Linked DNA regions of Homo sapiens: regions 1, 2 and 4 are each linked to region 3. Evidence: fine-mapped expression QTL. A gene starts in region 3. Each other region holds a variant in brackets. All regions are shown on one strand. Distances are from middle to middle.

The links. PIP is the estimated chance that this variant, and not a neighbour inherited with it, causes the effect.
Region 1: its variant is fine-mapped to the expression of VWDE in whole blood (TOPMed, PIP 0.97).
Region 2: its variant is fine-mapped to the expression of VWDE in whole blood (TOPMed, PIP 0.96).
Region 4: its variant is fine-mapped to the expression of VWDE in unexposed skin (GTEx, PIP 0.98).

The regions. Positions count from the first base shown.
Region 1 is chr7:12,296,566-12,305,009 of GRCh38, forward strand. No RefSeq gene overlaps it. Among named protein-coding and RNA genes, the nearest start is that of TMEM106B, 89 kb to the left of the region's middle. The variant G/T (reference allele first, on the strand shown) is at 4,013.
Region 2 is chr7:12,427,132-12,435,575 of GRCh38, forward strand. LOC105375155 (a long non-coding RNA gene) reads right to left here. Exons shown (of 3, transcript XR_927036.2): 2 at 7,325-7,397; 3 at 6,265-6,509. Among named protein-coding and RNA genes, the nearest start is that of VWDE, 27 kb to the left of the region's middle. The variant T/C (reference allele first, on the strand shown) is at 3,846.
Region 3 is chr7:12,401,923-12,410,007 of GRCh38, forward strand. VWDE (von Willebrand factor D and EGF domains) reads right to left here and starts at 1,943. Exons shown (of 29, transcript NM_001135924.3): 1 at 1,737-1,943. The coding sequence starts at 1,794. It overlaps LOC105375154 (a long non-coding RNA gene), which reads left to right and starts at 4,216. Exons shown (of 3, transcript XR_927035.4): 1 at 4,216-5,407; 2 at 5,616-5,734; 3 at 5,894-6,504. RefSeq lists enhancers at 1,231-1,798, 1,799-2,364 and silencers at 1,501-1,795, 1,689-1,738, 2,676-2,865.
Region 4 is chr7:12,375,917-12,379,916 of GRCh38, forward strand. VWDE (von Willebrand factor D and EGF domains) reads right to left here. Exons shown (of 29, transcript NM_001135924.3): 6 at 3,561-3,650; 7 at 1,860-2,004. Among named protein-coding and RNA genes, the nearest start is that of VWDE, 26 kb to the right of the region's middle. The variant C/T (reference allele first, on the strand shown) is at 2,304.

The DNA.
Region 1 (8,444 bases), 110 kb before region 3:
CCTGGTGGGTCCAAGCAAGGCCCAAGGCAGAGGTCATGGTGGCCACAGAGATTTCCAGCTGGCAAAAGCAGCACTGAAAGAATCCTGTAACACTAATGTCAGCAAGGGTTGCATTATGAGTCTCAACATACATGCATTCCAGAGATGAATAGAAATTCTGGTTACTTATAAATTCTTGAGAAAGAAGCCTGGTACCAGCTGCTGGCTTTAGATAATAGGGAAGTCTAATTACTTCTAAATTTTTCAGATAAGGAGTTTGACTTTGGATGGTCTGCTTGATGGGCACTAGGCGATTTTTGTCCTCCTAAATTTGAGTAATAAAACTAATTTGGCCTTCAGTACAGCTAGCTCTGAGTGAATTAAACTCATTCTCTATTGCAATTTTCTGGTCTTGATAAATCAGCTGTGTCTAGGCAGTGGGCAAGGAGAACCCGTTGGATAGTTACAAAACCAATACCCCAAAATATGATGTTTTGGCATGTTGAACTGAAGAAACCTCAAGGCCTCTCTGACCTCCCCCATTATTTAATCAATCTGCCCCATGTTAGTGATATTCAGTGAAACTTCAGGGGGCCAAAGGCCATGGCCCCCACAAAAGCAAAGCTTCATTTAAACACTATCTTTTCAAAAGAAATACATTGGTGCTGTAGCCAATAATACCCTGAATTTAAAGTTTCTCCTTAAATTTAAAACTTCTAAGACAAGCTTAATTTACCAACTCCAAAACATAGGTACTAAAACTTTTTAGTCTCTTGGATTGTTAGAGTCCAGATCTTAACTGGATTTTTTTTTCTTTCCCGATTTAAATGTTCTACAATTTAATAGCTGAACTATGTTTTATATGTGATGAAATATTGATGATAATTTAAGACACCTTCAACCTAAGAACTAGAAACATGACTATTAAACAATTGTCACATCAGCATTTATGATTTTATTTCTGGTCATTTTATTTATTTAAAAGCACAGTGAGGTCAGAAGGAAAGCTCAAGAATGGGGAGCAGGGTACAGTGGATTTTGGAGTGTGAAGGAAATAAAAAATTTTACCCCAAAATATATTAATTTGGCATATTTTTAAGTGGCCCTGCAAAGCTGTCTTCTGTGGGGGAAATTTGCATTTGTAGATGTGCAGAGAATCTACATTAATGCAGCCAGCCCGTCTCTTATTCAGATTAACTGAGAAAGATTAACTGAGTCTGAAACATTCAAAAGTCTGAAAAAGACTCTTACCATCTATTCTCTCCAAGGGCTGCTGCCTGTGAAGCAAAGCTTCATCTATATAACAACGCCACCTTTACTAGCTAAGCTTCCTGTTTCCTCCCTCCCAGAATCTGTCTTGCCACTAAGACCTGATTTACCAGCATAACCTGTTTTGGGTCATGTTCTGAGCCCACATTCCTTCTGCAACCTCAAGATGATGCATAAGCATCTGTACCACACTGGGGGTAAAATCTTCATTCTGAAGTCTCCTATGCATACATATTACATAAATTTATATGCCCTTTTTTTTTATTATTAATCTGCCCTTTGCAAGTTGGTTTTTTTCAGCAAACCTCCAGAGGGCCAAGGGTGAAGCCATCTTTACAAAAATTATAACGGAGGAAATTATGACAATGAAAGAGATCAGACCTAACCAACTCCATCTTGCTTCTAACCTTTAAGCTGTCCTTGTTCGTTCCTGGGCATAGGCTGAACTAACCTTTAACTCTGAAACAAAAATGATACTAGCCCTTTCTTTAAAAAAAAAAAAAAAAAAAAAAAAAAAAAAAAAAACCTTCTTGTCTGAGGACCAGTCTGCCTTTGTAGGACTAATAAATTAGCTACAAGATTAGAAATTAAGGTTTAGGGGTCACGCAGCCTCCAGCTACAACAGTCTGAACATCCCCAAATTGCCCCTGGGAACAACATCACTATTGTAAATCCTAAGATCAGTGCTTGAGATATTTTGCAGACCCTGCACTTGATGGATCACCTGACACCACCCAGAAGGGTAATGTAGTTCATCCAGTTCTATGATCCCACCCTGGGACAGAAGACAGCAAGGAAAACTCACTTCGACCCCTATAATTCTATCTCCAGCCTGAGCAGTTGGCATGCCCCACTTCCTGAGCCCCTACCCGCCAAATTATCCTTAAAAACTCTGATTCCCTAGTGCTTGGGGAGACCAATTTGAATAGTAATAAAACTCTGGTCTCCCACACAGCCAGCTCTGCGTGAACTACTCTTTCTCCATTACAATTCCCCTGTCTTGATAAATCAGCTCTGTCTAGGCACTGGGCAAAGTGAACCTGTTGGGTGGTTATAAGGGTTCCCCTTGGTCCCTACAGTTGGAAAAATTGACCTAGTTATTTGCCATTTCTCATCAAAATGATTGTTAAGTAAAATTTATAGAAAGCTATTATTTGAACTGGGCTTCTGCACTACGCCCAACAGGCCAAACCAAAATGAAGTTACTTATGCCAAAATGAAGTTATTTATGCCGAAGTTCAAAGCCACCAAGCCAAAACTAAGTTGTTTATCAGATCTTTCAAGAAATCAGGAGAGAGATTATAGCTGCAGGGGACAGGGGAAAACCTTCCCTTCACCCTCTGAAGTTTCACTGAAAAGTCAACTTACAAAAAACAAATTGAAGAAAAAGCATACAGATTTGTTAGCAATCATACAAGGGAGAACTACAATGTAATTACCCTACCCTGGAATGGTGTTCAGATGTTTTTATAACATCTTGAGGTTACAGAAAGAATAAGGGCTTGGATTGCTCGCAAAACAGGTTAAGGTGGTGATACAGTTTGGCTCTATGTCCCCACCCAAATCTCATCTTGTAGCTTCCATAATTCCCATGTGTTGTGGGAAGGACTTGGTGGGAGATAATTGAATTATGAGGGTGGGTCTTTCCCATGCTATTCTCATGATAGTGGATAAATCTCACAAGATCTGATGGTTTTAAAAATGGGAGCTTTCCTGCACAAGCTCTCTTTCTCTTTGCCTGCTGCTATCCATGTAAGACGTGACTTGCTCCTCTTTGCTGTCTGCCATTATTGTGAGGCCTCCCCAGTCACGTGGAACTGTAAGATGATTAAAAATCTTTTTCTTCCCAGTCTCGGGTATGTCTTTAACAGCAGCATGCAAATGGACTAATACAGGTGGTAAAGCAGGATATGAGAGGGGGAGAAGAGGAGGCCTGTCTAACAAAGATAGTCTTGCTATGTAAATGAAACCTACCCTCTCTGAGGATAGCAGCCCTCAGAGAGAATAGATAGTAAATGCTTTTAAAAACCTTTAAAGGTGTTGAACTCTCAGTTAATTTTTCCTTGATCCAGACAAGGAGAGGCCTCAGAGAAAACCTGGGCTCACTAATGTAGATATTCTACAGATGCAAATCTCTCCTACAAAAGATAACCCTTCAGGGTTATGTCAGTTTGCTCTCTCTCTGAACAGCCATCTCAAAATATGTCAAAGAAATCTATTTTGGGGTAAAATATTTTTATTTCCATCATAGCAGAATCTCCAAACAGGCCAGTTTTAGCCAGCATGATAAGGAAGTAACCTTTACAAGGAAAGCAATTTCAAAACACCAATTGTCTTTTTGTTCTCTGTTTCTGCTATCTTTAGCACTTTTCTGTCTATAAAGCCAAATAACTTTGCTCAGTTCATCAGGACATTCATTTTATTTTATCGAATAATGTGTTGTCTGATTCTAAAATTGCAAATAAAAGCCAATTAGGATATTTAAACTAAGTTTATTGTAATTTTGTCTTTTGACAGTATCTGGTTACCAGAAGAAGGGGACCCAAAATGCTGCTGAAAATTTATGAGACTTATTGAGGAACACAGGAGAGCCTCCATTGACCCCTTCATGGATCCCCTTTCTTCCTTATGGACCGCTACATGCTGCAACTTCATTTTGGATCAGACTCTGTTCTTCTTGCATTGAGTGTTCCCCCAACCCAGATCTTTTTGGCCTTTGAATCCAGGCTTAGATTGTGCTGTAAAAGAGAGTACCAACCTTGGG[G/T]TGTGTGGTTGACAAGTCACCGATAAGAGTGAAAGTCACAACAGAAACAGGATTGGGTTCTGTAGGGAGGCCTCAGGTGTTTGACTAAGTCAGGCAGAAACTAGCAGTAAATGGCAATTACCGCCGGAAGTATGAACTTTGGCTTTTGAAAGTTTTCAGAAATGTGTTTTTTTCTTGCATGCTTAGGTAGAGAAAAATTATTAGCTATGTTGGTCAAGGCAATCTCAGAGCCAAAGACACAAACTTGACTGGTGGGCATGCTAGTGGCAGCAAATTTGTGCAGGTCTGGAGCAACCTCAATTCTTGCTTCATCAGAAGAAAGAATTCAACTGAAGGGGCATAAGGCAGAAAAAGAGACTGAGGCAACTTTCAGAGCAGGAGTGCAAGTTTATTAAAAAGCTTTAGAGCAGGAAAGAAAGGAAAGTACATTTGGAAGAGATTCAAGTGGGCAGTGTGAAGGCAAGTTCCCCATTTAAACTTGATCCTAAGACTTTTATGTGCTGGCCCACTTCTGACCTCTTGCATCCCTTTCCCTACATTCTTTCTGAAGGGTGAGCTGCCCACATGTGCAGTGCCCTCCTTATGCTTGGGAGGTGAGCATGCACAGTGTGTTTAGGAAGTTATATGCATGCCCACCTGGGTTTTCCCTTTTCTGGTGGAATGCCCCCAGAAAGCCATACTCTGCTATTTTGTCTCTTAATGCGCATGCCTGAGCTCACTTGGCCAATTCCTGAGATTTTATTGGAAGCTGATTACCAATGTCAAGTGTTTTTATCTGTTTGGGAAATTGCTTCTCCCTGCTGCCTGCAATTAATTATCACTTTAGTTTGAAAACTGTCAACCATCAGGAAGTTGCTTCTCCCTGGCACTGGCTGCCAATTATCATTTTTAGAGAGCTACTGTGATAGCTGCTGAATGGTCACCTGATGATTGCCTGACGTTCCTGGTGGGGATAGGGGTGGGGGTGGGTGGAACCGTCTCCTGCCACGCTCATACCTGACTAATTACCAGTAACAGGCATGGAATAGGCACCTAAGAGGTATTGGAGCAGTCACCACCAAAATAAGACTCCCATGGTCACAAAAATGGGTTAGTTGATGTAGGTCACCCATCAGCTTCAAGAAAACTTTGCGCAATGAGGTACTCTGTGAAAGTATTAGAATACACAATGCTCTGGTCTTTTCATCATAGGATTTTATCTCTGCTCTGATTGACCCAAGGGCCAGAATAAAAACAAGATCCTTAATTTCTAAAGAACTGACCACTCCACTTTCCAGCTATGCCTGCTTTTTATACGTATAAATATTAGGCACTGGTAGCCTCAAATTTTTAAAGGCAAAATCTTTTTTAAGATAATGGAGAATTACAATGGCCATTATATAGAACCTCCCAGATGAAGAATACTGTACTTTAAAAAGTGCACTTAAAAATGAGGGGTACCAAATTAGGCTTACCCAGGGATTCCTATTGATGTGTGGAAGCCTCTAGAAAGATTTCAGTACAATTTTTATTGCATCTTTTAAAAGACTTGTTTACAAAAGGCAATTAAAAAGCTTAAGAGACTAATTGATTTAAAAAATTGAATCTGTCAACCTTTAGCATAGTTACTATTCCTCCCTAAAGGAATAAAGAAAGCTAAATAAAAAGTAATTTTGGCCCTCATGTAAAGAAGGTTTTCTTCCTTTTCAGAGTTATCCATGTGGAGTCCAGGCATAGAAAATGCTTGTTTGCCCTATTCATTAATGGAGCCCACCCTAAATAAACTGAGTAATCTAGAATCTAAGTTCTGGATTACTGAATCTAGAATTTAGAATTCTGTTTTAAAAGCAGAAGATTCTGTTTCCTAAAACAGAAACTGTTAGAGTAGGTAGCTAGGCAGACATGTGCAGGGCAAGAGAGGCCTTCCCCTGACAGGAATGTCAGGGGGCCATCAGGTGATCAGACAGCTTGTTCAACTGTCTTTCTAAAATAATAATTGGTCGCACCTGGTGCCAGGAAAGGGCAGTCTCACAATAGAAAACACCTGAACCTGGTGAGCAGCAGCTTCCTGGTAAGATCTTAGGAGTTGGGTAAGTGGGCTCAAGTATCCACACTAAGAGGCAAAATGGTAGAGTTTAACTGCTACATGACCTTCCTCTAGGAACCCTCAGCTGGTAAAGGAAAACCACCTCAAATGAGCATACGCACAACTTCAGGAAACACTGTGCATGCTGCCCCTCCCAAGTGCTAGCAGGCAACTGTGCACATGGACAACCCAGCCCAAGGTAGAATCAAGGGAGAAGAAACAAACCCTGGAACCATGCCAATGTATAAAACCCCCAAGTCAAGGGTTGGACAAGGCACTTGGATCACTTAAATTGACCGCTTGGCCCTTTTCCAAGGGCACTTCATATCCTTTTGTTTCTGCTCTAAAACTTTTTAGTAAACTTTCATTCCTGCTCCAAAACTTGTCTTGGTTTCTCCCTCTACCTTAGGCCCCTCAGTTGAATTCTTTCCTCCAAGGAGGCAAGAATCCAGTTGCTACACATGCATATGTATTTGCTGCAACTAACATACTTTGGTGTTGTGACTCAGATACGTTACCTAGTTGTAAGATCTCTCTCTGCCTTGCCTCCTTTGCCTGGAGTTATTCAATCCCCATATGAGGTTTCCTTCTCCCCCTTTGCTCTCCTGCTTACTAACCAACCCTCAGGATGATTTCTGTCAGTCACAGTGGCTCTACTTCCCCTGGCTGATCTCTCAGCTCACCCTGACAGTGACTCACAGGAGTAGAAAGAACCTTGGAGTCTGCACTGAGTACACCTGAGACACTCATGGCCCTGCTGGACAGGAGGCTCATGAGAATGGTAGGTCTAAAGCCTAACACTGTGCAACGTCTGGGGTTTCCTCTGATTTATCAACTAAAATAAACTCTTTCCAAAAAACCTGCACTGCGTATTCTCCTGTTTTCTCTGTGTATATTTTGAAATGGGCTTGAAAACCCACAAGGCTATTCACCTTAGGGACAAGTCTGCCTATTCTCTGCTTTCACTTTACGTGCCTTATGACTTCCTTCTCTGCCTGAAACATACACTGTTATTCATGGTGTAGCTCGTGCTGTGTTTGTGCAGCAGCAAAGAAACAGGCTCTCTTAAGGATGTCTTTTGGCTCACTGCCAGGAAAGACATTAATTGGAACCCTGGCTCTGCCAGCTCCTTATGATTCACCATATATCTTTTGTCCCTGTTATTCTTCAGGGCCAAGTTTTTTTGGCTTTTGGTGAAATTTGTCTGCCTTCATAGGATCTCCGTCTGTGGCCATTTAAGGACCCCACCTACTTGCTTTTTTTGAGCCAGCACCCCTTTGGGAGGAGGGAAAATTATTCCTTTGCCATTTGCGAGCCCTTATCCCAAGCCCCAAGTCATTCAGAATTTCCTCCTTTATGTCAAGAGGGCAAATCAACATTGCCCTCTCGAATCCAAGGGATGCTGTTTTTGTGAGTGTATGGAAGCTTTCTATGAGTATTCTTCTTGCTTTCTCCCACTTCCTCCTGCAGCAGAGGAATTGTCCTGTCTGTTTAAGCATTTGTCTTCTGCATGTTACTCCAACAGGACATGGAACCTCAAATACAAATTTTCCTCCATTTCTCTAATTACCTCCACATCTTTCTCAACACTCGACTTGTAAGGGAAAAAGGCTTCTTAAATGAGCACGTACATAACTTCAGTAAACACACTGCACATGTGTCCCCTCCCAAGTGCTGGCAGGCCACTGCACATGCAAACAGCCCACTCCAAGAAAGAATCAGGAGAGAAGAAAAACAAATAACAGAAACATGACAATGTATAAAACCCCAAGTCAAAGATTGGACAAGGCACCTGGACAGCTCAAGTTGCCCACTTGGCCCTCTTCCAAGTATACTTTACTTCCTTTTGTTCCTGCTCTAAAACTTTTTAATAAATTTTCACTCCTGCTCTAAAATTTGCCATTCTTGCTCTGCCTTATGCACCTGGGTAGAATTCTTTTCTCTAAGAAGGCAAGAATCAAGTTGCTGCAGACCCGTATGGATGCACCACTGCTAACAAAACCAAGTTAAACAGAACACCTATGGAACTAAATTAGGCTCAAAAATGTAACTTTTTAACATTTAGCTATTTTGAAACTCTTTTGAAAAAAAGATATATCTATGAAGGAAAATGAGCAGAAATTCTTACAATGGGGGAGAGCATTGGTCTAAGCAAACCTCACCTTTGACCATTTTATTTTAACTGTGCTTCCTACCTATACTTTTCTTTGTCTAGGCAAATAATGGCATTTAGGCCGGAAATTTAACTTATGTGCCTTTGAGATGTAAATTTTCTAACTTGTTCTATATAAGATCTTTATCTTTAGAAATGCAAACTTAGGAAACTTTTTACATAGTTATTAAAAATGGAATGAATATAATCGACAG
Region 2 (8,444 bases), 25 kb after region 3:
TTTTCTTCTAGGGTTTTTATGGTTTTAGTTCTAACATTTAAGTCTTTAATCTATCTTGAATTAATTTTTGTATAAGGCGTAAGGAAGGAATCCAGTTTCACCTTTGTATATATGGCTAGCCAGTTTACCCAGTACCATTTATTAAACAGGGAATCCTTTCCCCATTTCTTGTTTTTGTCAGGTTTGTCAAAGATCAGATGGTTGTAGATGTGTGGTGTTATTTCTGAGGCCTCTGTTCTGTTCCATTGGTCTATATATCTGTTTTGGTACTAGTACCATGCTGTTTTGGTTACTGTAGCCTTGTAGTATAGTTTCTTTTTGTTTTTGTTTTTGTTTTTTGAGACAGAGTCTTGCTCTGTCACCCAGGCTGGAGTGCAGTGGCATGATCTCGGCTCACTACAAGCTCTGCCTCCCAGGTTGACGCCCTTCTGCCTCAGCCTCCCAAGTAGCTGGGACCAAAGGCACCCGCCACCATGCCCAGTAATTTTTTGTATCTTTAGTAGAGACAGGATTTCACCATGTTAGCCAGGATGGTCTTGATCTCCTGACCTCATGATCCACCTGCCTCGGCCTCCCACAGTGCTGGGATTACAGGCATGAGACACCAAGCACAGCTGCCTTGTAGTATAGTTTGAAGTCAGGTACTGTGATGTCTCCAGCTTTGTTCTTTTTGTTTAGGATTGTCTTGGCAATGAGGGCTCCTTTTTGGTTCCATATGAACTTTAGTTTTTTCCAATTCTGTGAAGAAAGTCATTGGTAGCTTGATGGGGATGGCATTGAATCTATAAATTACCTTGGGCAGTATGGCCATTTTCACAATATTGATTCTTCCTATCCATGAGCGTGGAGTGTTCTTCCATTTTTTGTGTCCTCTCTTATTTCCTTGAGCAGTGGTTTGTAGTTCTCCTTGAAGAGGTCCTTCACATCCCTTGTAAGTGGTATTCCTCGGTATTTTATTCTCTTTATAGCAATTGTGAATGGGAGTTCACTCATGATTTGGCTCTCTGTTTCTGTTCTTGGTGTATAGGAATGCCTGTGATTTTTGCACATTGATTTTGTATCCTGAGACTTTGCTGAAGTTGCTTATCAGCTTAAGGAGATTTTGAGCTGAGACAATGGGGTTTTCTAAATATACAATCATGTCATCTGCAAACAGGGACAACTTGACTTCCTGTTTTCCTATTTGAATACCCTTTATTTCTTTCTCTTGCCTGATTGCCCTGGCCAGAACTTCCAACACTATGTTGAATAGGAGTGGTGAGAGAGGGCATCCCTGTCTTGTGCTGGTTTTCAAAGGGAATGCTTGCAGTTTTTGCCCCATTCAGTATGATATTAGCTGTGAGTTTATCATAAATAGCTCTTATTATTTCGAGATACATTCCTTCAATACCTAGTTTATTGGGAGTTTTTAGCATGAATGGCTGTTGAATTTTGTCGAAGGCCTTTTCTGCATCTGTTGAGACAATCATGTGGGTGTTGTCATAGGTTCTGTTTATGTGATGGATTACATTTATTGATTTGCATATGTTGAACCAGGCTTGCATCCCAGGGATGAAGCCCACTTGATCATGGTGGATAAACTTTTTGATGTGCTGCTGGATTCAGTTTGCCAGTATTTTATTGAGGATTTTTGCATTGATGTTCATCAGGGATATTGGTCTAAAATTCTCTTTTTTTTGTTGTGTCTCTGCCAGGCTTGGTATCAGGATGATGCTGTCCTCATAAAATGAGTTAGGAAGGATTCCCTCTTTTTCTATTGATTGGAATAGTTTCAGAAGGAATGGTACCAGCTCCTCTTTGTACCTCTGATAGAATTCGGCTGTGAATCCGTCTGGCCCTGGACTTTTTTTGGTTGGTAGGCTATTAATTATTCAGAGCCTGTTATTGGTCTATTCAGAGATTCCACTTCTTCCTGGTTTACTCTTGGGAGGGCGTATGTGTCCAGGAATGTATCCATTTCTTCTATATCTTCTGGTTTATTTGTGTAGAGGTGTTTATAGTATTCTCTGATGGTAGTTTGTATTTCTGTGGGATCAGTGGTGATATCCCCTTTATCATTTTGTATTATGTCTATTTGATTCTTACCTCTTCTGCTTCTTTATGAGTCTTGCTAGTGGTCTATCTATTTTGTCGATCTTTTCTTAAAACCAGCTCCTGGATTCATTGATTTTTGAAGGGTTTTTTTGTGTCTCTGTCTCCTTCAGTTCTGCTCTGATCTTAGTTATTTCTTGCCTTCTGCTAGCTTTTGAATTTGTTTACTCTTGCTTCTCTAGTTCTTTTAATTGTGATGTTAGGGTGTCGATTTTAGATTTTTCCTGCTTTCTCTTGTGGGCATTTAGTGCTATAAATTTCCCTCGACACACTGCTGTAAAAGTGTCCCAGAGATTCTGGTATGTTGTGTCTTTATTCTCATTGGTTTCAAAGAACATCTTTATTTCAGCCTTCATTTCGTTATTTACCCAGTAGTCATTCAGGAGCAGGTTGTTCAGATTTCATGTAGTTGTCCAGTTTTTAGTGAGTTTCTCAATCCTGAGTTCTAATTTGATTGCACTGTGGTCTGAGAGACAGTTTGTTATAATTTCTTTTCTTTTACATTTGCTGAGGGGTGCTTTACTTCCAATTATGTGGTCAATTTTAGAATAAGAGTGATGTGGTGCTGAGAAGAATGTACATTTTGTTGATTTGGGGTGGAGAGTTCTATAGATGTCTATTAGGTCTGCTTGGTGCAGAGCTGAGTTCAAGTCCTGGATATGCTTGTTAATCTTCTGTCTTGTTGATCTGTCTAATATTGACAGTGGGGTGTTAAAAGTCTCCCATTACTATTGCGTGGGAGCTTAAGTCTCTTTGTAGGTCTTTAAGGACTTGCTTTATGAATCTGGGTGCTCCAGTATTGGGTGCACATATATTTAGGATAGTTAGCTCTTCTTGTTGAATTGATCCCTTTACCATTATGTAATGGCCTGCTTTGTTTCTTTTGATCTTTGTTGGTTTAAAGTCTGTTTTATCAGAGACTAGGATTGCAACCCCTGCTTTTTTTTGCTGTCCATTCACTTGGTAGGTCTTTCTCCATCCCTTTATTTTGAGCCTATGTGTGTCTCTGCATATGAGATGGGTCTCCTGAATACAGCATACTGATGGGTCTTGACTCTTTATCCAATTTGCCAGTCTGTGTCTTTTAATTGGAGCATTGAGCCCATTTACATTTAAGGGTAATATAGCTATGTGTGAATTTGATCCTGTCATTTTGATGTTCGCTGGGTATTTTGCCTATTAGTTGATGCAGTTTCTTCCTAGTATCGATGGTCTTTACAATTTGGCATGCTTTTGCAGTGGCTGGTACCGGTTGTTCCTTTCTATGTTTAGTGCTTCCTTCAGGAGTTCATGTGAGGCAGGCCTGGTGGTGACAAAATCTCTTAGCATTTGCTTGTCTAAAGGATTTTATTTCTCCTTCACTTATGAAGCTTAGTTTGGCTGGATAAGAAATTCTGGGTTGAAAATTCTTTTCTTTAAGAATGTTGAATATTGGCCCCCACTGTCTTCTGGCTTGTAGAGTTTTTGCAGAGAGATCCACTGTTAGTCTGATGGGCTTCCCTTTGTGAGTAACCTGATCTATCTCTCTGGCATCCCTTAACATTTTTTCCTTCATTTCAACCTTAGTGAATCTGACAATTATGTGTCTTGGGGTTGCTCTTCTCAAGGAGTATCTTTGTGATGTTCTCTGTATTTCCTGAACTTGAATGTTGTCCTGTCTTACTAGGTTGGGGAAGTTCTCCTGGAGAATATTCTGAAGAGTGTTTTCCAACTTGGTTCCATTCTCCTGGTCACTTTCAGGTACACCAATCAAA[T/C]GTAGACTTGGTCTTTTCACATAGTCCCATATTTCTTGGAGGCTTTGTCCATTTCTTTTCACTCTTTTTTCTCTAATCTTGTCTTCTCATTTTATTTCATTAATTTGATCTTCAATCACTGATACCCTTTCTTCCACTTGATCAAATCAGCTATTGAAGCTTGTGCACGTGTCATGAAGTTCTTATGCCATGGTTTTCAGCTCCAACAGGTCATTTAAGGTCTTCTCTACACTGTTTATTCTAGTTAGCCATTCATCTAACCTTTTTTCAAGGTTTTCAGCTTTATTGTGATGGGTTAGAACATGCTCCTTTAGCTCGGAGAAGTTTGTTATTACCAACCTTCTGAAGCCTACTTCTGTCGACTGGTCAAAGTCATTCTCCATCCAGCTTTGTTGTGTTGCTGGTGAGGAGCTGCAATCCTTTGGAGAAGAATAGGTGCTCTGGTTTTTGGACTTTTCAGCTTTTCTCCTCTGGTTTCTCCCCATCTTTGTGGTTTTATCTACCTTTCATCTTTGATGTTGGTGACGTACAGGTGGAGTTTTGGTGTAGATGTCCTTTTTGTTGATGTTGATGCTATTCCTGTTTGTTAGTTTTCCTTCTAACACATTCCCTTAGCTGCAGGTCTGTTGGAGTTTACTGGAGGTCCACTCCAGACCCTGTTTGCCTGGGTACCACCAGCAGAGGCTGCAGAACAGCAAATATTGCAGAACAGCAGATATTGCTGTCTGAATCTTCCTCTGGAAGCTTTGTCCCAGAGGGGCACCCACCTGTATGAGGTGTCTGTTGGCTCCTACTGGGAGGTGTCTCCCAGTTAGGCTACATGGGGGTTAGGGACCCATTTGAGCAGGTAGTCCGTCTGTTCTCAGAGCTCAAATGCCATGCTGGGAGAATCACCACTCTCTTCAGAGCTGTCAGACAGGGACATTTAAATCTGCAGAAGTTTCTGCTGCCTTTGGTTCAGCTATGCCCTGCCCACAGATGTGGAGTCTATAGAGGCAGTAGGCCTTGCTGAATTGCGGTGGGATCTGCCCAGTCTGAGCTTCCCGGCCGCTTTGTTTACCTACTCAGGCCTCAGCAATGGCAGATGCCCCTCCCCCAGCCAGGCTGCAGCCTTGCAGGTTGATCTCAGACTGCTGTGCTAACAATTAGCAAGGCTCTGTGGGAGTGGGACTCACCAAGCCAGGCAGAGGAGAGAATTTCCTGGTCTGCCGCTTGCTAAGACCACCGTAAAAGTGCAGTATTTGGGCAGAAGTGTGCCGTTTTTCCAGGTACACTCTGTCACGGCTTCCCTTGGCTAGGAAAGGGACATCCCCCTACCCTTTGTGCTTCCCAGGTGAGGTGACGCCCTGCCATGCTTTGGCTCGCCCTCTGTGGGCTGCACCCACTGTCCAACCAGTCCCAGTGAGATGAACCAGGTAACGCAGTTGGACATGCAGAAATCACCCATCTTCTGTGTTGAACATGCTGGGAGCTGCAGACTGGAGCAGTTCCTATTCGGCCATCTTGGAACAGAACCCCAATTTCTTTTTATATGGTTTTCTTTAACAATTTTAGCATATTTAAGACAGTTTTATTTAAAGTTTTTGTCAAGTAAGTCCAATGTCTGTGCTTCATCAGGGATAGAAATCAGATTCTTTCTAATTTCTCCAATTAATGGGCCATATTTTCTTATTTCTTTGTATTCTTTATAAATTTTTGTTGAAAACTAGACATTTTGAATATTACAATGTGTTAACTATAGAAATCAGGTTCTTTCTATTCCTCATGTTGGATCTGTAGTTTTCTGAGAGTTGTGATTATTTATCCAGTGACTTATCTGTACTGTTTTTGTATGGTTTATATTCTTTGTTATGTATGGTTTCAGGAATCTCTGTTCTTTTTGCCTGTGGTTAACTAGTGTTTTTAAGAGATTTTCCTGAAGTCCTGGGGAAAAAAAAGAAGAAGAAGGACAAAACAAGATAAAAGAAAGAAAAAATAATAAGGAAAAAAATTCTTCCAGGCTTTATAGATTGGCTCTGTGTTGGGGCAATGCTTCAATGGTTGGCCAGGCCTTCACAATGCTTCCTTATATTTCACTTCTTGCTTGCTCTGAGACTAAATTTCAGCCAGAGGTGAAGGTCTTCTCGGGTCTCTTCTGAGCATCCTTTTTCCCTGGGAATGTATGTGGCTTTACAGACTCCACAGTATACTGGCACTTTTCAATGCCCTAATTTTCCCCAAATAACTCTTTCCACATTTTTCCCCCAGGTTTTTAGAGTCTCTATTATTTGTGTCAACTGAACTCTCTCACCCCAGATGGCATGAAGTTTTTTCATTTGATTTATAATGTTATTGAGGAATGTACTCTGCTCAGCCATTTTTCTGCCCTAAGAGACTTCTGAGTTGCACAAAACAAAGGTGAATACCTTGAGTCTGTCCTCCAGGAAGCTACACGACAGGACAAAACTACCAAACAAAGTAATAATATTTATGTTTAAGAATAAGTTCTACTACTCTGCCCTTTCCGGAACCAGGAACCAGGGTCTTTTATTGAGAATGCAGTCTGCTGGCTTCAAAACTGTCATTGAGTCGGGGTAGGTGGGAGGCAAGGGCAAGTAAAAATAATGCAAAGCTTTTGTGCTTTTTTTAAGTTGGCTTTTTCTAGAATCAGCATTTGCTAGGTTGCTGTAAAACAAGAAACCATATGTTTTAATACATTTTTTTAAAGAGTTCTGTGACACAGTTATAATAATTAAAAGGGCAACTGTTTCCTTAGTTTCTCCTAATTTTCCTTTACCTAAACTTTGTCTTTACATTATCGTATGTTCCATTCACTCTCAAATGTACCTATTGTTCTTACCCACCAGCTCATACATAAGTATCTCCTCCAGTCCTGATCTTTTTCCTGAGCTTCATATTCATACCATCAACAAATGAACACAAAATGACCAAGATTCAACTCATAGCATACCACCTGTAATCTACACATCTGGCCATTGTCTGGATTGTGTCTAAGGTTTAGCCTCCACTCCTAATACTTCCTGCTTTGTACATCCGCATAATGAAAACTAAACTTTACTCTTGTCTCAATACATTTGTTTTTATTTCATCATGCTGAAATTTTATCTGTTTATCTCATCCAATATACTATAAGCCATTCATATGTGATTACCCAGTACCTAACTCAATATTCAATATTGATAATAAATATTGATGAACTGTATTAACTAATGAAAATTGTAATACTCCAGTCATATCCATAGGTGGCAGTAAGCTCCTAAAATTATGAGGAAAGTGGTCTGTGTCTAAACATAATTAATCACAGAAGTTAAAATGTTAAAATGACCTGGTTTAACTTATATTTTGGTCTTTTCATGCATACCAACTGCATAAGCTTTCACTTTTCAGAAATATTAAGCAAGGAGAAGAGAATACAATCTATTAAACTAGGAGCTCTTTGAAATGTTTTTCTACCTTAATTGCTCAGTTTTCAGACTCACCTATGACACTTCCTCACTCCTTTCAGCCTTCTCATTTGAGTATAAACTCAGTGCCAATTTTATCTAGAAGAAACTGATATGAAGAGTTTTCAGCCAACATTTAAAGCAAAATACAAGTTCAGTTTAAATAATTTGAATTTCTATTTTTCCTAATTCTTTGGATATTCTATAACAAGTGTACAAAGCAATATGAGATTTTTAAAGATGATCTTGTTTTGATAATGAACAAGTTATTTTAATATAAATTCAGCAGTTTCCTCTGGAATCCATTTTGCTACAATACTACAAGTATGCCTATATAGATATACCCTGTAAGTAACAACTAGTTTATAAAATGAAATGTCACATCACCAAATTATCTGAGACCGTATTTTTCCACTTAAGTTATCAAATAACAATAAGACATCCATATTCCATCTGGGTTTACTAATTTATCAAGGCCTACTGAAAATTCCTATTTCTGAAAAAAATCTTCCTATGTACTTTAAAATTAATATTCTCTGGACTTCAAAATTATTTTCCAAACAATGGGCTTTGTTATCTACTCACAGATGCATTCTGGGATTAGTGTATGAGTTGCAGATGATTTTCCTCATAAAAGATTTTATATGTAGCCTCTGGATCTGGCTTCTATATATTTGTTTGGTAGTTCCTGAGCAAATCTGTGAAGTTGGTTTAATATATTTTTGGTATCTTAACTCTTTATCTTGACAAGGGACACTCTGCCTACCCCATATGTTTTATTCAATCATGCTATATTGCTTTTCCTTAAGTATACCTTAATTAATTTCTAAGAAGTTATTTATTATACCACTAATGTATCATATCATAATCAAGAATAATTTAAAATCAATAACAAAAATGAACACAAGATTTCTATGGCTCTTATTTCCCATATGTATTAGTCTGTTTTCACAGTGCTATAAGGAACTACCTGAGAATGGGTAATTTATAAAGAAAAAAGGGGCCTGGTGGAGTGGCTCACGCCTGTAATCCCAACACTTTGGGAGGCCAAGGCGGGTGGATCACCTGAAGTTAGCGGTTCAAGACCAGCCTGGCCAACATAAATCCCATCTCTACCAAAAATACAAAAAATTAGTGGGGCATGGTGGTGGACACC
Region 3 (8,085 bases):
AATATAGTATATCCACACAATGGAACATTATTCTATCTTAAAAAGGAATGAAATACTGGTACATGCTACAAGATGAATGAACCTTGATAATACTGTGCTAGATGAAGTAAGCCAGTCACAAAAGACAACCTATTATATGATTCAGTTTACATAAAATATCCAGAATAGGCAAATGCAATGAGACAGAAAGTAGATTAGTAATTCCTTATCGCTGGGGAGAAAGGGAGGGTGATAGCCGGCATGCGGCATGATAGCCCAGGGTATAGTATTTCTTTCTGATTGATAAATATGTTCTAAAATTGACTGTGGTCATCGCTGCATATACCTGTAAATATACTCTGAATATACACATATCTGTGAAAATGAAAAACCATAGAGTCGCACACTTTGAGTGATTTGTATGGTATATGAACATCTTAATAAAGCTATTTGAAAAAAAGAAGTCTCAATAAATGCATTTTCCATTTACCTCGTCTTCTAGTTTTACTCCATTAAACATAAAGAACTTGACAATGTTACCAATGTTATGAACTTAAAACCTGGTAATGGGTAATATTTGTCTTCAGCAGAGAGATTACAAAGCTATTATATAGAGGCAAAAAAGGGTTATGCGGTCTATAGTAAACATGAAATCATCTTCCTTTATAAACATTGGTCATTTTTTTCCTGGAAATATTTATCTAACTGTAATGAACAGATATATGTTATTACATGTATTTTTTAAAGTTATTCATAAAGATTTAGTAACGCTGTAAGCAAACCAAAGAAGGACCAGAAAAAATATCATTGCAGAAAATAATAAATTTGATTTTAGTATTTTATTTTTAAGTTTTGTATAGGATAGTGTTTGTATTCCCCTTATACAAAGCAAACTTACATCAGTAAAATGAGTTAAGATCAAAAAATGATAAGACAAAACTATACCCTGGACTGCTATAAATGTTGTACATAATGTTTTTTCAAGCTGCAGATGGTTGAACACAGATCAGACTTTTTCTGAAAAACGTAAGGAAACTTGCAATATAAGAACAAGTCACCTTTCATTAATATTCCTATCTGTATGAACACAAAAAACAAGCAAAAAGGGCTAATGAAAGTAGTTTTGGTTTAACTTCACTGTATTTTAAACTAAATGTTCTTTGTCATGGATTAAAGAAGTAGGAGGGGAGTATTCGCTCCACAGAGATCTCTTTTACAGTGCCAAAACTGATTCTAACATATATATACAAAAACCATAATACAGTATAATACGGATATACAAAACTTAACTTGGTGATTTATTGTAGGGATAAAATGTTCACCAATGAATTATTTCTGAGGGTCCGGTTGGAGGTGGAATTCGTGCAGTATGGAATTCAACTCTGTTCTGAGAATTCAGGTCCACTTGCGGCTAGCATACCTTGCAGATCCGGCGAAAGTTTCTTACAGTAAATTACAATGACCTCAAAGAGCAGGATAACAGCAGGAAACAACCAAAAACAGAACCAAGGGTCGTAGAGTAAGAGGAGGCAACAACCGCATGTGCGCAAAAGAAAAGTGTAGAGTTTTCAAGCTGGAAATTGACCTTTTCAAAGACAGCAGAGGGACAGAGAGGAGGCGGGTGAGGAACAAACATCGCTTGCTGCCTTAAAACGCACAGGGACGCTCCCCAAGTCGTCCAAAAAGTCTAGCCTAGTCCCTCTACCGCCCACGCGGCGCCACTGCGCGCCCACCCCCGCGCGCCCTACCTCGCTTACCTTCCCCCCAGGCCAGGAACATCAGCGCGATCACCAGCACGCAGGCTCCGCCAGGCATCGCTGCTTCCGCAGGTGGGGCGAAAGGCGTCGCAGAGCCCGGGCCGCGGGTGCCAGGAGGATGGGGCCACAGCAGCCCCTCGGGCCTCCTTTCTTGGATTTTCTCAGTCTGTTGCTGCTTGGAACAGGGAAGCTCCGCGTCCTCGTTCTGGGGTGCACCCAGTCCTTTCGTGGGATAGAGCCTTCGCGTAATCCGTCTGCGACTCCTCCCTTCCCATTTTGGCTGCTGGCTGACCTGAAAGCCACGCCCAACCTGTCCCCATAGCCCAGCGTGTACCGGCAGTGGCTCCGCCGCCTTGGATGTCACCGTGCAGTCGCACAGCCAGGAGTCAAGCTACAGGGATGTAGCTCTCCGCCCGCTGCGTCTTGCTGTTCTAACAGAGGCTGTATGAAAACTTGGTAATCCTAGAAACTGCTCAGATGGACCTCGCATAAAAGAAGCCTCACAAGGTTCCGTTGGAAGGGGAAGTTTCCCATGATTGTATCTGCAGACGGATTCCTAACTGCGTAATGGGCGCTACTGGTTTGCACCCCAAGGCGAAGGCGCTGAAAATGCTCCTGTCACCTTAGATCTCAGTGATGAACGACAGGAGGAGGAGTAGACACTAACGTTGCAACAGTAGATGCCTTTTCTTCTGCCTCTGTGACAGGTTTTCAGAAGTGGAAAGGACCGCATTTAGACACTAGCCAAACCATGAGGTTTGTCACCTGTATTTGCCAGTGATTCCCAGAGCTCTTACAGTTGTCCCAGGACGCTTTAGCACATGGCCACACGACTCCCAAGGTTGACCTGGGAGTTATTAGAAGATCAGAGGGCTCTAATGTCTTCCCCCAACCTCGTTTTTGTTTTGTTTTGTTTTGTTCGAGACAAGGTCTCACTCTGTCACCCAGGCTGGAGTGCAGTGGCACAGTCACAGCTCGCTGGAGCCTTGAACTCCTGGCGTCAAGCGATCTTCCCCCTCAGTCTCCCAAAATGCTGGGATTACAGGCGTGAGCCACCGTGCCAGGTCTAAGGTCTTCAGAAGTGTGGTTGCCTCTGCAGAGGAACAGGGTCCTTTTTTCAACTGATTCTACATCTTTTTATGTCTGAAAATGAAACCTCACTGTCCTAGTTTTTCCCTGGCTGTCTCATTCCTTGAGTCTCCCATCCATCACCTTGCACTTGGTTCTCACAGAGCCTTTACCTGAAGAGGATAGTTTGGGGGTCCAAGTGGGCACCAAGGTTCCACCCACAAATTTGGAGGTTCAAGGTTGGCCTAGGCATGGTGGTGGAAACAGGAGGTGTCCAAATGCATAAACAAGTATTTTTTTAATTTCATATAATTCTTTATTTTTAATTTGAAAGGTAAATTACCATTTAAAATTTTAAAGCTTATCATCTCCATAGTAAAAATATTAACCCATATTGGAAATAATTTCTTTTTGGTACACAATACTTGTGTGTAGCCATCTTTCAAATGCAGCAAGGGCACCCAATTTTCTGGATTAAAAATAAAATATTACTTTTTGGTGGACGGTAGACAGGTGATTTTTATCTTAAGGCTTAAGTATGGAAGGGCAATATAATGTAGGCACAATGAAAACCCAGAGATTTCTTAGTGTACAGTTAAGTCTTTTGTTTCCGCTTAAAAAATTCTAATAAAACAGACAAGAAATTAAATGTCAGTTTTCTCAATCTATTTGTGAAATCACCAGGAACAAAGTAATTTGATGTGAATCAAATCATAGCAGGACTTTTGTGAATTTATTTTCTAGCAGTATCTATACAAATGTAGTAAACTTTTATACTTTCTTGGAGGACAACATTACTTATCTGACTTCCATCAAAATACAATTTCAGGTATCGTGGGCCTTATTTTTTTCTTCAGTTTTTGATTGTTTATGAGTTTATGAGTTTACAATAAACTTGTGCCAAAACCCAACTTCCCTCCATGTGACTAAAGATGGAAAAAACTAAAAGCAACTTAAGAATTTTTTTTCAAGTCTCAGTAACCTGGCTTGGATCTGCAAGAATGTATCAATTAAATGCTGGTTATATCACGCCTGTAATCCCAGTGCTTTGGGAGGTCGAGGCAGGCGGATCACCTGAGGTCAGGAGTTCAAGACCAGCCTGGCCAACATGGTGAAACCCCATCTCTACTAAAAATACAAAACATTAGATGGGCGTGGTGGCGTTCGCCTGTAGTCCCATCTACTCGGGAGGCTGAGGCAGGAGAATCGTTTGAGCCCAGGAGGCAGAGGTTGCAGTGAGCCAAGATAGCTCCTCTGTACTCCAGCCTGGGCGACAGAGCAAGATTCCATCTCAAAAAAAAAAAAAAAAAAAAAAAAAATTAGTTATAGAACTGTATGGAAAACAAAAAGTAATGAAAATGTTTTAATCTATGTCTCGTGAAGTTAATCAAAAATTGGTATAAGATTCTTTTTTATATTTTTGAACATTAAAAACAATGGATGCATGGTACCCCGCAATATAGAGACTGACAGCACTTGTAAAATGCAGTAAATATCACTGAGACAAATAATAAGAATGTCAGAGGGAAGAAGAAATGAAGCCAAGTGCTAATAAGTACAATATAGCTTAAATTAAAAGATTAACAGGAGAAAATTTTCAAATGATAATTTTCTAGGAAAAGGAGATAACTCAGTTTTTGTCAGGTTAATTTACAAAGTGATGGGCTTGAGTGAAAAAAAATACCAAATTCAAGGGGCAGAAAAACCCAGTGATTAAGTCCACAAATCCTAGGTTAAAAACACCTGGGCTGTAATTCTAGATCTGCTACCTATTTATCAGAAGTGTAACCTTGAACAGCACACTCAACTCCTCTTAACCTCATTTTTCTGTACAATAGAAATGACAATAATAGTACCCCATAGACTTAAAGAATCAAAAGTGTATGTGCATGCCTGTGTGTGGCTGGGAGCGTGGAAGAGCATCTGGAGAAAGAGCACTCAGAATAGCATTTGGTCCAAAGTAGCTATTATGGTCGAATGTAACAGTTTACTGTTATTAGAACTAGGGTAATATTCTACATAATTATACTTTCTCTTATGTCTTATTATATAAAGGTGCATCATTTCTTGGCACTACTCTATTACAGTGTCTGCACAGTTTGGAGTAACCTTCCTGGAAAATACATATTTATGTAACATATGAATTCCTCATCCCATGTTTTACTAAATGAGTGAGCCCTTTTCCAGAAATGTAAAATTGATAGGATTGCTTCTGGGGTTTACTTGAGCTGAACACAAGTACACTCAGAAGCAGAGGCTAAAACATACAGCAGGTCCTTGGTCATTTTGTTTAACGTTATTTTGTTATAACACTGATGGAAAAAATCGATTTCCAGCAGAGGCCAATGTCTATGTGGAATTGGCACGTTCTTTCCATGTCTATGTGGGTCTTCTCTGGGTACTCCCGTTTCCCTCCACTTCTCAACTCTCTGTGTGTTGGGTGAATTGGCATGTCTACATAGGCCCTGCTTGAGTGATTGTGGTTGGGTATGTGAGCGCGCCCTGCGGTAGGATGGCTTCCTGAAGAGAGCTGGTTTACACCTCATGCCCTGAGCTCCTGGTGTAGGATCTGGCCACCTGTGATCCTGAACTGGAGTAAGGAGGTAAATAATTATCTTGTTTTCATTAATCTTTACTCAATGTATGTATAGTTTATTTTACTGTTTAATATTAGAAGTATTTTGGTCTTTTTTTAGAAGTTGGTGATGTTTTTGTGACCAGAAATATGGTATAGTAATTTAACTCATGTTGATATCAATTTGTCTGTAGTAAAACTGGTTTCATTACATGTTGTTTCACTTTACATCGCAGTTTTCAATAACCTATGGACACCGTTGAGGACTCATTGAATGTGGCTATAAGTGTGGTCAAGTAATGAAAACTGATCAGCTGAGGGAGGAAAAAGACAAAAGTGGATGACCAAAATGAAGGTGAGGTGAGAAACAACATGTGAGAATAGAGAAACAGAGAAAAGCACTCATACACGTCCACACGTGCACACACACACAAAAAGACAGAGAGGAAGAGAGACAGACAGACAGTGACAGAAAGAGAGATATGCTAATTCCTGATGGCTTTCCACTCAACAGCTCCAGAATCTTTCGAGGACTGCCTATGTTTCCTGTTTTGGATTAGGAAAATGTGGCACATATACACCATGGAATACTACACAGCCATAAAAAATGATGAGTTCATGTCCTTTGTAGGGACATGGATGAAACTGGAAACCATCATTCTCAGCGAACTATCGCAAGGATAAAAAACCAAACACCGCATGTTCTCACTCATAGGTGGGAACCGAACAATGAGAACACGTGGACACAGGAAGGGGAACATCACACTCCGGGGACTGTTGTGGGGTGGGGGTAGGGGGGAGGGATAGCCTTAGGAGATATACCTAATGCTAATGATGAGTTAATGGGTGCAGCACACCAACATGGCACATGTATACATATGTAACAAACCTGCACATTGTGCACATGTACCCTAAAACTTAAAGTATAATAATAATAAAATGTAAAAAATTAATTAATTAATTAAAAAATAAACAACAAATTTAAAAAAAAAAAAGAGATACCCCCAATACACTGCCTATAAATTAAGGTTAAGTGACTTTGAATTTGTTTTGCTGTTGTTGTTTATAAACAAAAGAATATTGTCTAAAACCTGTTTGAAAATATAAACTGTATAAATTATTAAATATTTGGTTGTGCTTATGCATTTGCCAGAAGAAACAGAAAAATGCACTTGAGATTTGTATTGAAACCTTACAGTGGTTTGTTTAGGAGGAAATGGACTCATCATTTGACCACATAGAAGCTATCCAATCAAAAAGTTTCAGGGAAAAGTATGGTGTGTTCATTGCAGAATGAAAGAAAATCAGCAGTTAAGCTGATTTTGTTATGACAAGCTCAATATGTTTCACAAGAAGATTATTCAGTGCTAGAAAGTCTAGAATACCATTGGCTTTTCCTTCCAACTAGCCAGATGACCACCTATAAATGATTAATAACTTCATTGTAGACAGTTATAGAGATTGTAACTGAAAATAGCTACAGAAAAGACAAAGATTCAGTGGTACTGAAGCCCAATAAGTAATATTTGCCAAATATACCCCATCTCTAATTCTCATTCATAGGCTGAACTTCCTGTCTTATAGTTTCTTTCCTTTTTCTGCATTTAAAAGTTCCTTCTTTTTAAAAGTGTTGAAAATGAATGAGAAAAAGCTGGATAGGAATGAAGAGAGAACCAATTTTGTTTCATTAAACATAGTAATAAAGAAAAACAGTTGATAGTTGAAAAGAGAATGCCCTAAAATCTGCATTACAAAAATGTTTTACCTGTGATATATCTGCTTCATACTGATCAAGAATTAGGGGGGAAAAATGTAATTTTTAAAGGAAAGGAATTAAAGCAATCACTTATTTAGTTATTCCTAGAAAGCCCCTTTAAACCTGGTTCCTCTTTTAGTCTTCCCTGTTTTGGAAAATGGCACTATTGAGTATCCCTCGTCACCAACTAGGAAAAAGGCATGAGGCTCCTCCCTTCTCTCTCATTCATGACTCCTCCTTTGTATTCAATCCATGAATAAGGAGTCCAAAGAAATCTCACACTCACCTGTTGTTCTGTGTCTTCTCTGCCACTCTGCTGGTCAAGCCTCCCCATGACTTACGTGGATCACTGCAGAAAATACCACATTTTTTCTCTGAGCTTCACTCAGGCCCCATTCAATCTACATCTCTGCCATATAATACCGGGATGAGCTTTCAAACTGTAAATCACACCATGTCCCTGCCCTAAAACCTTTCACTGGCCTCCCATAGATAATGGGTAAAAATACCAGAGGACTGTTACCTGCAACAGCTAGCCCCTGCCTACCTGTTCAAACTCAAATACATTGCTTTTCTCCCACTCCCACTCTCCCTCCTCAGCTCTCATATGTGCTATACTTCAACTCACTAGCCTTGTGAACGTTCCTAAAAGTTCCTAAAAGAAGGCAACCATTGCCCCTGGAAGGACTGATTGTTTATCCTACAGGTCTCAGCTGAATTTCGCCTCCTGAACACCCTGTTTAAATTGGCTCCTTACCCCAGGTCATTCTCTAGCGTTACACTATTTGTTTCCATTTTAGAACTTAAACTAAATATTTAATCTGTATCCTTGCTTATTGTCTGTTTTTTTGTTTTTGTTTTTGTTTTCTTACTAGAATATAAGGTCTATACAGATAGTGGTCATGGTTCTTTTACTCACCTCGCAGTATCCGTGACATGAACGAATCTAA
Region 4 (4,000 bases), 28 kb before region 3:
AACAGATTTGCCCCCAAAATTGGTCAGAGAGGAAGTATGCTATCATATCCAATTAATGATTCCAAAGTCCTCCTAAGAATCTAAAAGGAAAAAAGTTGTTAAAAAATGTTCTATCTTCTTTTCTTCCATACAGATTTTTTAGGTATGAAGTTATATTAATCAGATATAGGCATACTGAACTATTTTTTTAGAAATATATACTTTTCCCATGCACATAAAAAATAACAGAAACATTCAAACTCTTAACCAACTCTCTAAGGTGAATACAGAATATTTCTAGCTTAGATATAGCCCATAACATCCATTCCTCAAGCCAATACATGAGGGGTTGTTCTCTTTAAGCCTGTGAATAGCAGCATAGTCTGTTTAGAAATACACTCAGACACCAACTGGTTCCCTATGAAAGTAAAGATTTAATGCTACTGTACTTAAAGAGGACAAGATGAGGGGTATCCAGAATGAAATCCAGAATTTTTTCTTCAACAAACAAAAGCCATTTTTAATTCTCAGAGAATAAGAACATGCATGCAAACTTCTAAAATGTAGAAATATATTTAGGCTATTATTATATTATTTTAGCAATGCTTGCCTTGTTGAAAGAATTGAAAGCATGAAAATATATTTTAAAGTATACCTGTAACTGAAGAAAATCTTTGACTAACATGATTTTGGAAAACATCAATAACATCATCCTCTTTCTGTTCTCTCCATAAACTATAGTAATATTTGCATAATACACTTTTCAGAGCTAACTTGAAGTAGAATTGTGTCAAATAGTCCGAGAGAGGGTATAATGTAATATGTCTAGGCTGTAATTAAAAATACAATGTTGCTCGTGGTGCTCCTGAAATCTGAGCGAGTAGGTAGGTATTACTGAGCCTGCTTACTGTTAACAATCCTAAGATGACCTCTCTTAATTCCTCTATCTCTTTAGCCATCTCTTTTCTTGAGTGCATCATTCCAAATGATTCTCTTTCTCTCTCTCTCTCTCCTGGCTTTTTTATCTTCTTGTTTCTCTGATTTAATTATTTATAATATGGACATGAAGGTCTATAGATACCTTGTGTTTGGTATATTTACTAAAGACAATGTAATGTTCTACGGTGAAAATGTATGTGGTATGCCAATGAAATTGTAATCTCTCTTAAAGGTTATATTTTATGTATCTGTAACTTGCTTTGATCTCTACATCAGGGGCTCAGTGGGAAAAAGAACATAATCAAGCCAATCACTGCTATGCATGGTTTGTCCTCGCATATTCTATCTTGTTATGTGGGAGGATTTCTTCACTCTATCCATTGACACATATGTGGCCATGTATCACAACATCCATATAATCAGTAATTGAAATAGAAGAATTTTAAGACACAAGATCCCAAACATAAACGTACGTTAGGGAGAGAAACTTGAAGGATGCATTATGAGATCTATATTTCATAAGCTTGAACTTTTAACGTAACTTATCAAATGTCTCTCATTGGGGATGATTTGAAAAATCTTAAAGAGCAGTTTTTCCCTCGTTTTCTGTAAACTAAGCAAACAGAGGAATAAACAGGAGAATGAGAAAAAAATAGGAGAAAAAAAGAGGAGCGAGAGGAAAAAGATGATGACGAAGAGGAGATTATTCACTATTTTTTTTCTTTTTTTAAAATGTATGCTTTCAGCCAAGAAGAAGAAATGTGAATTGCTTTGGCAATCGTCAGTTTGGCCGAGTATTAGTAATATGATTGGGCTAAAATTTGATGTCAACATGCAACATGATTTATTATATGAGTACACTCCAGTGACTTTTCCTACAGGAAAAAAAAGCATTATTGTTTGCAATCTAATAATAAGATAAAATAAAGTTAGTATATTACCTTGACCAATAGTTTTCAGTTTTAATGAGATTTTGCATTCTTGATCAAGCTCACTAAATTCAGAACAAATAATAGGAACTGTGCTTTCTATCCTCAGGTAGTATTCTTTCCCATCCTCTGATATAGTGCTCAATTCAGGCTGTAGCTGGTATAAGAAAATACGTAGAAAAATTATGTTAAAATATAATTTATTTCTAAGGCACAGTTTTGAAAGGGCATTTTCTCAACAGCACATATTTTACTAAATAATAACTTAAGCCCTAGAATGTTTTAACTAAGCAAGACCATTAAAATCAAACTTATACAAATACAAGCAGCACACACAGGAGTACATGGAGCTGCTGTACTGCTCTGAGTTTGACTCACTTTGGTTCCCCAACACATTTGGCAAATCATATCCAAGCCTGCCTCAATGATTCTGGTTCTGTGGTGAGCACTGGAAAG[C/T]GAAGAAGAAAGAAATATTTCTATTTTCTTCCACTTTATTGCTAATGTTTACTGACACACCAACAGAAGACTCTGGTTTTTCTTAGGGATTAATACCACCATCTCAATTAGAAATTTAAGTACTTTTAATACATAAATCAAATTATTGTTGTCACCTGAAATATCTCCACACTTAGCTTATTTCTCAGCATCTGATTTCCAGAGTTGAACTTCCTGAGAACTGGTGCAACCCAGGACTGGCCCTATCTTCATTCACAGGCCAAACCTTTTTTGAGGCAGGAATGTTTCCATGCAGTCTCGAGTCTTGGCTAGCTCTCAAAACAGATGATTCTTAATACTGAATATTCTCCCTGTTAGCCTAATCAGAAAGGGTACAAGGGTGGGGGTGCTGACTATTGACCCCTGACACTGTCTGCTGAGTGCTAACCAATGTAAACCAAAATGTTCCTGTGTTCTCAAAGCTTGACCTCTGCTTCCCCTCACGCTGTAGTTATGCAATTCTGACAAAGTGGTCCACTCTTCTCACTTCTTTTCCTGGTTCCTACTGTGTGTACATGGACTTTATTCATAAACAGGGTTTATCCTGGTCCTGAGTCCTATTCTCACAATCTTACCATTTATCTCATCTTGTCCTTGAACGAGAAATGAATCCAGGTCAAACTCGAGTCCTGTGGGTGAGACCTTCCAGGTTCACCGTGCTTGCCTGCCTGGACCGTTTGATATTGCCCCCACTTCTTCCACTGCTTATTAATTCCCTGTCATCTCTGCTCATCTGCTAGAATAGCTCTTCAGTTCTTGGATCCTATTGCCACCAGCAACAACCAAATCTCCTCCTCTGTTTAGCTAGCTCAATCTTTGCAGTCCATAAAACTCATAGCTCTGGGTCAATTCTACTCTAGTCAGAGACTCTACTACTTGGCCTGGTATCTGTCTTCCAAAATGCATGATAACTAAATATTACTAGGCTAACTTTCGTTACACGATGGAATGAATTAGAGGAATAGACCTTCTGCTTTACTCTAATTTGAGCTATTTCTTTAAAAAATGAAGGTACATCTCAACTTTAGTTAACAAGACCCCTCAAACTTTGTTGCGCATTAGAATTACTGGGGCTTTTCTTCAAATATGGGGACTCATGGGTCTCAACATTCCGATTCAGTCTGTGATGAGGTACAGAAACCAGCATGGACAGATCACAGTTTGGGAAACATAGTTCCAGAGGAATAATCTTTCTGATGCATCCCCACTGCTGCGTACCTTAAAGCCTGCAAAAAATTCTTGGCTTTCGATGGCTACACTTTGTACATGAGGATTCTCCAAGAAAAAGACAGAAGCGCTGCAGAATATCTATGGATATAATTAAAAAATAATCACTTAGAAATTCAATTTTGGAGAAAACGTGTAAATTATCACTTTTAAAATCCTAAATTTAATTCTTCATAGATAGTATATAAAGATAATAAAAGAATTAAATAATTTAAAAGCTTACTTGATATTTCAGAAAAATTCCATCATTATAAAATATGACGTATTCAAACCTCAACATAAAGTATAGTAGGCTTTGTATTTAGGATGTTTTTAAAAAGTACTTAAGGCCGGGTGCGGTGGCTCACGCCTGTAATCCCAGCACTTTGGGAGGCCGAGGCGGGCGGATCACGAGGTCAAGAAATCAAGACCATCTGGCCAACATTGTGAAA